Linked DNA regions of Homo sapiens. The protein of the gene in region 1 interacts with the protein of each later gene in a pairwise test. Each region holds a gene or a part of one and is shown in the gene's direction. Other genes may lie near its edges.

The links.
Region 2: the proteins of PODXL (region 1) and SGTA interact in a two-hybrid assay, tested with the Homo sapiens proteins (one large-scale study listed by BioGRID).
Region 3: the proteins of PODXL (region 1) and IQGAP1 interact in binary tests that used the Homo sapiens proteins (3 or more experiments, as listed by UniProt).

Annotation. Positions count from the first base shown.
Region 1 is NC_000007.14:131,546,587-131,550,238, reverse strand, and holds part of PODXL (podocalyxin isoform 1 precursor), read left to right. Parts: intron 1-3,652. UniProt on the Homo sapiens protein: Involved in the regulation of both adhesion and cell morphology and cancer progression. Functions as an anti-adhesive molecule that maintains an open filtration pathway between neighboring foot processes in the podocyte by charge repulsion.
Region 2 is NC_000019.10:2,754,183-2,756,864, reverse strand, and holds the end of SGTA (small glutamine-rich tetratricopeptide repeat-containing protein alpha), read left to right. Parts: intron 1-931; 3' UTR 932-2,150; downstream 2,151-2,682. UniProt on the Homo sapiens protein: Co-chaperone that binds misfolded and hydrophobic patches-containing client proteins in the cytosol. Mediates their targeting to the endoplasmic reticulum but also regulates their sorting to the proteasome when targeting fails.
Region 3 is NC_000015.10:90,391,178-90,394,829, forward strand, and holds part of IQGAP1 (ras GTPase-activating-like protein IQGAP1), read left to right. Parts: intron 1-3,652. UniProt on the Homo sapiens protein: Plays a crucial role in regulating the dynamics and assembly of the actin cytoskeleton.

The DNA of each region.
Region 1 (3,652 bases):
GCCTGGAATACTGTGCCATAGCACTGGCCACCATGCATTGTGCCTAAATATGTCGGTGTTTGCCACTGGCCCACTGGCTGAGGACCCCCTGTCATTTCCACAGCCTCTAGCCAAATAGGTGGTTAAGAAATGTTTGCGGGATAATTGGCTGCACAAAATGCAGCGTTCAGCTGCAGATTCATCAGTGGCCCTTGCCCACATCTCCCGCATCCCAAGCTCTTGCATTGTCTCTGAGTCCTGGCCCTGCCCTGAATCGCTGGAGCAGCAGCAAGCACAGACCCTCAGCTAAGAGGGTCCCCCAGCTAAGGTTGGCCCCTGGGCCACCTCCAACCATCCCCACCCCCTTCCCCGACATATATCACCACCACCCTCTCTTCTTTTGTAGCCTTATTCCCCTTGGGAATAAGCCACCTCACACTTCCGAGGACCAGGGTGTAGGGTGGCACCTCGTCCACCAATTGTCATGGCCAGAAGGCTATGTATGTGCCTCCACTCAGGGGGAAGAGAATTCTAAGGAGCGGCTGAGAGAGGCTTGCTATCTGGCCCTGGATTGGGGTGCAGGGACCTCCCAGAGCCAGGCCCCTAGGGATGTGTGGACTGACCTGGGGTCTACGCTGTCTGATTTCTTAACCTTCCAGCTACCTGACCCTGATCAGAGTAGAAGGGACGGCAGTTAAGCAAGCCGGTGAGGAGGGCACTCTGTAATTTTTGAACATACTGGCTGTGTGTGAGGCTGAAGCCACAGCTCCTTCTTACCTGAAATTCATGGAGCTCTGCCTGAGGACTGAGTCCCTTTGGTCTCCATCCAGCCAGGTTCCCATGCCAACCTACTCCCAACACACTGATTGGAACCACAGAGCCCTCCAGCTGGGGTAGCCTGCCTTTGCATGACCTTTATCTCACAGACCATTCCAGAGAGGAGAAACTGAGGCACAGATGCAAGGACTTGCAGTAGATCATACAACCAGCTCTTCTCCCAATATGTACGTGGTTCACTCCCTCACTTCCTTCAGCTCTCCCCATGAATGCCACTTTCTCAAAGAGGCCTACCGGGGCTGCTCTGCTTAGAAACCCCTCCCCCCCAGCACACTCTTTTCCTCCTACTCGCCTTTATTTTCTCCATAGCACTCGTCACCTGATATGTGTTCATTGGTTTGTTTGTTTGTCTGTCTCTTCCCCGTTAGACTGTAAGTTCCATGAGGGCAGGGACTTCCATTGTGCTGTAGCCACAGCACCTAGAATAGCACTTAGCTCAAAGTAGCTGTTCCATAAATATAGGTTGAATGAATGAGTTAGTAAGTGAGTAGGTGTCAGGGCTGGCTTAGAACTTGCCTGCCAGCCTGTGCTCTGTAAATGCAAGGCTACCTGATTCAAGAAAGAGGTGGCAGGTGGGGGCCGGCCTAGGTCCTGGGGGCATATGGGCAGGAAGGAGCAGGGATTCCTGGTAGGAAGCAGGAGGGGGCCATGTCTCCTGTGCTGTCCCCACCCAAAGGATCCTTCAGCTGAGGATTGGGGCTTGTGTTTGTTAGAACTTGATTTGGCTGCTCATAGCAACAAAAAAGAGTAGTGGATTAAATAAGACAGGCATCAGTTATATCTCTCTCATATCATAGAACTTCAGAGGGGTGGTATAGTGGTTCTGCCATCATTCACACGTGGCCTCGTGGTCCAAGGTGGCTGCTGGAGTTCCAGCCATCAGGAAAAAGGAAGGAACAAGAAGCATGTGGCTCCTCTTTAGAGTGTGCCTCCCAGAAACCACATGTGACACTTCTAGTCACATTTTGTTGAACAGAACTTAGCATGTGGTCACACTAGCTGAAAGGCAGGCAGGAAAGAGAACTTAGGGAAGAGTAATTTTTATTTCAGGCACCCAAGTGCCTACCCAAAAAACAGTGGTTCAGTTACAAGGAGGAAGCAGAGAGTGGATATTTGGAGTAGGTGACTGGCAAATGCTACTGCAGAACTGGTCCCTGCAAACCTTGGACGTCTCTGTAGCTGCCCTCTGTCCTCACCTTGCCGGTCAGATCAGCTTCGCCTCTGCACACAGCTCTCAGGAAACACAGCTCTCAGGAAGCCTGGTCCCACTTAGTCCTCCAGTTATGTGGCTGTAGCCTTCTGGTCCTGAGGGGCAGTTTCTGGTAATGCACAAAGAAACCTGGCTCCTTCCTAATTGGGTCTTGAGCTGCAACAGGGATCCGAGGTGTCCCAGGACCCCCATAAGCTGGGCCTTGGGCAGGGTAGGAGGGGAAGGACCTGGGTTCCCCCACTGGCCTGTGGATAGGGAAGAAGTGTTTCTGCTCCCCATCTCTCCCTCTCACCTCAGAGCAGGTGAGTGCAGGGCCAAGGAAATACTGTCTTAGGGGTTTGGCTATGAGCTCTCAGTGACAGCAGCAGCCGGGGGCCAGTGACTTTGAAACCTGCGGGTGGTATTCCGTGGAGCTGCCTTGGGGGCCACTGAGGGCTTGGGGTGCATACCTGGAGAGGAAAATTAAGAGGAGGCCGATTTGGGGGGAGTTTTACGTCCATCCTCTTCACGAAGGCCTACTTTTAACTGTTCCGTATGATAGGTCTCTACGTAAGAATTCCTTTGACAAAAAATTTTGCTGTGATGGTGAAGAGAAGAAAAATGGAAATCTCTGCTGATGCCCTAGACTCTGCAGTTAAGAGGCTTGGATTTTAGCCACAGCTTCGACACTTGTTAGCCTTGTGATCTCAGACTTGTTCCTTGACCTGGGCTTCTCCAGCGGGAAAATAGGTATTGTGCCCTCCTCCATAGCAAGGGCTAAATAGGATCATGTAGGTGGTGCCTCTGATGTGCAGAAAGCATCCACACGTGTTGATTTTTTTTTTTTTTTTTTTTTTTTGAGACGGAGTTTCACTCTTGTTTGTCCAGGCTGGAGTGCAATGGCGCAATCTTGGGTCACCACTACCTCCGCCTCCCGGGTTCAAGTGATTCTCCTGCCCCAGCCTCTGGGGTAGCTGGAATTACAGGCATGCACCACCACGCCCACCTAAGTTTGTATTTTTAGTAGAGACGGGGTTTCTCCTTGTTGGTCAGGCTGGTCTTGAACTCCCAACCTCAGGTGATCCGCCTAATCAGCCTCCCAAAGTGATAGGATTACAGATGTGAGCCACCCGCACCTGGCATGTTGATTTTATTTCTTGTATTGGCGTCAGCCCTAGCCCAGTGTGAGTCAACAGACCCTGTTACCCCACCCCCAACGCCATGCTAGAGCAGCATCCTCTGCGACCTCACAGGGCCAGGTTTTCTTCTTCAAGGCCCTTCCCCATTACTCAGGCTGGGGGCCTCAGTGCGGGGAGGCAGGGTTAGTTGGAGACCGCAGTTTTAGATGAAGGTGGCCAGGGTGGGCTTAGCTAAGAAGCCACTGAGATGGCGCCCCCTGCCTTCCTATTCCTGCCTGGTGCTCCTCAGCTCACCCCTAGGGGGCACTGCCCTTCACTTTGGGGCTTTGAGTCAAAACAGACTTTTTTTTTTTTTTTTTTTTTTTTTTTGAGACAGGGCCTCACTGTGTTGCCCAGGCTGGAGTGCAGTGGCACGATCTCGACTCACTGCAACCTCCGCCTCAGGAGTTCAAGCGATCCTCTCACCTCGGCTTCCCCCATAGTTGGGATTACAGGCACCTGCCCCCAA
Region 2 (2,682 bases), on another chromosome or scaffold:
TTTTTTGTCCTTTTCTCACTGTGAGCAGGTGTTGCACTTACAGTTGTTTAAAAATACACTCAGTGTCCCCCATGGGTTCCAGGGGCCCGTGGCTGGCTTGGTTTCCTTCCCCAGGGGCCCCTGAGTTCAGTCCTGTCCGTCTCCAGCAGACACCGGCTTCCCAGGGGTGGGAGGCTCCCCTGAGTTCAGTCCTGTCTGTCTCCAGCAGACGCCGGCTCCCTGGGGGCGGGAGGCTCCGGGCCTCCCCAGAGGTGTTTCCATTCTGCTCCCATGTGGCCTCTTCATTTTGTCGTTGTCCCCTCCTCATATACACTCTCTTTCATTTTTAAACCATAATTACTGTAGACAAATTTAAAATACAAAAATGTTAAAAAGCAGCAAGAACAATCTTAATCTTTTTTTTTTTTTTTTGAGACCGTCCTGCTCTGTCCCCCCGGCTGGAGGGCAGTGGTGCAGTCACGTCTCACTGCAGCCTCAACCTCCTGGGCTCAAGCGATCCTCCCGCCTCGGCCTCCCAAAGTGTGAGCCGTGCATTCAGCCCAACCTTAATCTTCTCACCCAGAGCCACCAACATTAATATTTTGGCCGCCTTTTCTTCCAGTCTTCCCTTTTTTTTTTAAATAAGCTTTTATTTATTTTTCCTTTTCTTTTTTTAATAGTTGAGGTGGATTTTTTACCACCGTAACCTCATACACAAAGTACCACCATACTGTAGACCCTTCTAGGTCATGGCGATGTTCTCTGCGCCACCAGCCACACGTGGCCCCGAGTGTGTGGAACGCTTCTGGTGCAGCTGTGGCTCTGACGTTCGTTGAAATAGCCGCTGTGGCCCCTGGCTGTCCACTCTGGGCCTCTCCTGCTGCCTGGAGTGTGTGGTGCAGCCTTGGTCCCCACCTGCGCTCTGACAGCCTTCATGTCTGTCCCCTTCCAGCTGCTCCCGGTGTGACCGCGTCCTTCCCTGGCCGACCCGAAGGAAGCCTTCTGGTTGTCTGCCACTTCCTCCTGTTGGACTGCCTGAGAGAGGGGAAGAGAGAGACCTCGGACCTGCATGTCAAGATGGATTTTCCCCTTTTATCTCTGCCCTCCTCCACTCCCTTTTTGTAACTCCCTTACAGCCCCCAGACCCTTCTTGAAACGAGAGCCAGCAAGCTGAGCACAGACCAGCAGCGACCTCCCTTCCAGCCCCCAGAAAGCTCGGTCACTTGAGTGTTTTCTAGAATCCTGGGGTGCTCCCGGGCCGCTCTCAGAGAAGTGGCAGGTTTCACGTTCAGCCGTGTGGCGGATCGTGTGGCTTCCAAAGCCTTTTACAGCCCCCGCCCCCCATCCCGTGGTCTGTCTGCAGGAACTCTCCCGTCTGTGAGAAGCCTCTTTCCGAGTCGACCTCCCGGCCACCCCGGCCCTGTGCCTGCTCGGAAGAGCTCACTGCCAGCTGCGGCCTGGGCACCGCGGGCCATGTGTGTTTGCATGAGGAACTCTTTAGTGGCAGACACCTAAGAGACGGCTGCGGTCACCCCACGCCTCCGCGGCTCAGGAGCCGTCCTGGGTGCATAGGACCAGTTTCTGTGACTTTTCTCCAGTTGGGCATGTTGACAGACATGTTTCCCCTCCTCCCACCCTCATTTTCTGGTCCTCGCGACTGAGAGCCAGGGGCGACATCATGACCTTCTGTCCCGGCCGCCTTAGCCCCGGGCACAGGGAAGGCAGCTGGGCCGTTTCTGTCTGTGTCCCATCCTGCTGTCCTTCTGTCCTGGATGTTTCATGGGCCCGGGGCCCCCCAGGGAAGCTTACCCCTCCTGTGCTGGGTGGAGGCCACGGGACACCTCAGGTGCCACCCACCTTGGCCCTAAAACAGCCACCAGGAAAGCAGCCGGAGAGCCGGACAGCAGGCAGCCTGTCTGGGTTCCTGAGGCCTGGGGGTGGCAGACGAGCCCACGGCGCCGTGGTCCCAGCAGCAGGGTTGTCAGTCGGAGCATCCTGGGGCTCCCTGGCTCCTGGCCGTCTGTGAGGTAGGCGCAGTACCGTGTATCGTAGGTAGCAGTAGGAACGGGGGCCGCCGCGGCCCTGCAGCCGCTCATGGCGGTGAGGTGTGTGCCAAGCCCACCCGGGGTGCAGGGCGTGACGTGTGGGGAATAAATAGGCGTTGTGACCTCTGTCTGTCTTCGTGTTGACCTTGGCGCCACCGATACCCTCCAACCCCAAACCTCGAGAAAACCCCCGACGCGGAGTTTGTGGATCAGCTGGGCTGCTTGTGAGTGAATCCCCGCGACGCCGGAGCCGCACTTCTTGGGTCACGGGTCACGGGTCATGGGAGGTTTCGGACAGTCAGCCTCTACCCTCTGCTGTCTCCCTTCCCTCCGCCTCCGTCCCCAGCTGCATCCCGGTGTAGAGGGTCACCCCAGGGTGGGGTGAGATGCCTCGGTCCTCAGCAGAGAGTGATCGTATTGTCTGTTGCTTTGCTTTGCTTTTTTTTTTTTTTTGAGACTTTCACCCTAGATGCCCAGGCTGGAGTGCAATGGCGCAATCTCGGCTCACCTCAACCTCCACCTCCCGGGTTCAAGTGATTCTCCTGCGTCAGCCTTCCAAGTAGCTGGGATTACAGGCATGCACCACCACGCCCAGCTAATTTTTTGTATTTGTAGTAGAGACGAGGTTTCTCCATGTTGGTCAGGCTGGTCTCAAACT
Region 3 (3,652 bases), on another chromosome or scaffold:
CAGTGAGCCGTGCTCTCACCACTGTGCTCTAGCCTGGGTGACAAAACTCCTGTTTTTGGTGGGGGGAAAAAAAAGAAAAGATTTATTTGAGTATGTTATAGATGTAACTGGGAAGCTGGTGGTTGAGGGAATAAGTATAGGTAGGGTATTTATTTATGGCAATAAGTAGCCTTGATGAGAGTTTATCATGAATCACTGTGATGGGCATTTAAGTGTACTGAACGGTTTTCCAGGTTTCTATTGTTCAGTCTTATGCTTATTGTGCATGTTTTGGGCGTTACCAACTGTGGGGTGGAAATAGCATTTTTAGGATTTGAAGTTATTGGCTTTAATGTTTCACTTATGCTTCATGAATTTTGATTTATATATGAATTGAGTCTCCTCCTCCTATGACCTGCGGAGTGGCTGCTTGGTTTGGGAGGCTTAGAAGCGTGGTGCTGTTGGTGTAGGTCCATCTGTTTGGCAATATTCAGAGTCAGCATCCTCTGCATTCTTTGTGAAGTGAATGTAAAGCTGCTCTTTTCCTTTTTCAGATGCCCCACAACCTTGTGGTCTTAATTTTAGAGTGTCATTTTGTTATCAGTGATTCATTTCTTTTGTTCTGGTGCTTGTGTTCTTTTGCAGAGTCCCAGGGTAGATGTAATTATAGATCATGTATTCTATAAGTGAGCTTTGGTGGAAAAGTCAAGTGAGGGATAATGAAATATTTGTAATTAACGTTTAATAAAAAGGGTGTTTGAAGTGGTGCTAATAAACAAGTGTGTGTGTATGTGTGTATTTTAATTCTGAAAATCTTAAAATGCTACAAGAAAGTCCAGAGAACAGTACAACAAACATCATTGTATTCCAGAACTAACAAATGTTAACATTTGAGATATTTCCCTTTCCTCTAAAAACAAAACAAAACAAAACCAACATCGCTACATTTAAAGTCTTTTTTGTGCCCCTCTGGTCCCATTCTTCCTTCTCCTGGGGCAAACACTAACCTGTATTTTGCATGCCCTCTTGTGTCTAGGCTTCTTTTCTGAGCTTAAAACTTCCAGGAAACTGGAGCTTGGGTTTCAGTGATGACTTAAGTGAGGAGGATAACACTTGTCTTTCTAAATAATAGAAGATGACATAGCAAGGCATGCTATATCACTAGAAAAGGGGGCATTTTCTCATATGAAGTTTATAAGAAAACAAAAACTGTAAGATCTCTGCCATTTAAATTGTGGATTTCAAGGTTTGGAAGGTCAAAGAATTTGGAAGCTGCAGCTGTTCTGAGAGACCATCTTGTGCTCTGTGGAGCTTTGGTGATTCCACTGAGGTGACCTGGGGGTGAGAGGGAAGAGCTTCAACACACCTTCCTTCCCCCATCCAAAGTAGCTCTGCTTTTGTTTTACTGTTGAATTTCTTGAATAAAATTCACTTGTTACAGAGGGTGTTTTGGCTAACACCTCCCCTCCCCCAAACACTACCAATAACTAGTTCAACTGCTAATCTAGTTCAACCATCTCATTTAATGAAGAAACTGAAGCCTGAGTTTTTTGGTCTACTTGTAGTTTTCTTGATTGAAGAATGTTTCTATCTTTTTTTTTTTTTTTTTGTACAGTCTCGCTCTGTTGCCCAGGCTGGAGGGCAGTGGCGCAATCTTGGCTCATTGCAACCTCCACCTCCCGGGTTCAAGCGATTCTCCTGCCTCAGCCTCCTGAGTAGCTGGAATTACAGGCATCCGCCACTACGCCTGGCTAATTTTTGTATCTTTAGTAGAGACTGGGTTTCACCATAATGGCCAGGCTGGTCTCAAACTCCTGACCTCAGGTGATCCGCCCGTCTCAGCCTCCCAAAGTGCTGGAATTACAAACGTGAGCTGCTGTGCCTGGCCTCATCATTTTTTTAACTATGGTTGTTAACCAGGTGTGTGCATTAGAATCACCTGGGGAACTTAAAAAAAAAAAAAAATACACCTATCTGGGCCCTACCATAGAGATTGTGGTTCAGTAGGTCGGGGTGGGAGATCCAGACACATAGTAGTCCCTTGGTATCTGTGGGGGTTTGGTTCCAGGACACCTGCAGATATCAGAATCCACAGTTGCTCAACTTCCTTATATAAAATGGCATAGTATTTGCATATAACCTTAGCACATTGCATAATATATACTTGAAAACATCTCTAGATTACTTATCATACCTCTAGATTACTCTAGATATATCTCTAGATTACTTATCATACCTGATCCAATGTAAATGCTACATAAATAGTTGTTACACTGTATTGTTTTATTTATATCTTTCTTTATTTTTTTCTGACTGTTTTTGATCCATAGTTTGTTGAATCCATGGATGCAGAACCCATGGATAAGGAGGGCCGACTGTATTTTAAATGTCTCTAGTGATTCCGATGCTCCTTCCTTGGCCCCCACTCCTCCCCCTGTTGAGAAACAAGATTTAAAACTCTGCCTTATGCTGGGATATCATGACCTCAGTAGAATGTTACACTTCATCCTATTTCTTCATCAGGTTCTGCATTAGCCAGGCATTTTATTTTCAGCTACTCTAGAGCGTCTTTTTTTCTGTCAGGTGTTTTTTTCCAGTATAGGAAAGTAGCCCATTTCCTTTAAAGACCACCCAGCAGGCATGATCCCCTGAGGTGTTTTTTTGTTGAGTGCTTTTGCATACTTAAGGAGTAACTGACCTGGCCCGGTGGCTCACGCCTGTAATCCCAGCACTTTGGAAAGCTGAGGTGGGCGGATCACCTGGCGGTCGGGAGTTCGAGACCAGCCTGACCAACATGGAGAAACCCCCGTCTCTACTAAAAATACAAAATTAGTCGGGCGTGGTGGCGGGTGCCTGTAATCCCAGCTACTCGGGAGGCTGAGGCAGGAGAATTGCTTGAACCCGGGAGGCAGAGCTTGCGGTAAGCTGAGACAGTGCCATTGCACTCCAGCCTGGGCATCAAGAGTAAAACTCTGTCTCAAAAAAAAAAAAAAAAAAAAAAGGCAGTGGAGACATTTGTGATGATCTTCAGGTTTTTTTTTTTTTTTTTAAGGGAGGGCATAATAGTGGCATATTACCCTAGCACACCCTGCCCATTGGCCTGGCATCATGGAAAGGTGCCTGGTCTATTTTATGGAGGCAATCATAAAACTGGGTGTGGTGATTTTTGTTGTTGTTTAAGGCTTTGATTTTAAAAAATCAAGGTTGGAAGCACCTATTTAGATTGTAAACTAGAGAGGACAAAGGAAAGAAGCCTGGGAATGTTATGGTGAGAAAAGAGGACTAGAATCCCTGTCAGCCACCTATGTGGCTGCTGCCACCCCTAAAAAGTGTTGTGAGTGCACCAAGGACAAATGGCATGCTCTTCGTTATTAGTGAGCTATTAACCTCTTCCAGTTCTTTCTCCTACCTTGGTGAACCGGCCTGTATCTTGTGTGTTCCGAGGGCCCCTCTTTCCCCTCTAGCGCTAGACCCAGTTTGCCTTTTTGGTTTGGTTCCATCCTGTTTCCTCCATAACCTCCACCCCTCCCAAGTTGGAGGAGCCCCAATATCTGGGATTTACAGTAACTCTAAGGCCAGGAATAAAGATCATAGAGATTGGAGGGAGAAAAGCTTCCCCTCTTCAGTTCTATTTATAATACCTCTACTTCTACTAAAAGCTCCACCTTTTAGT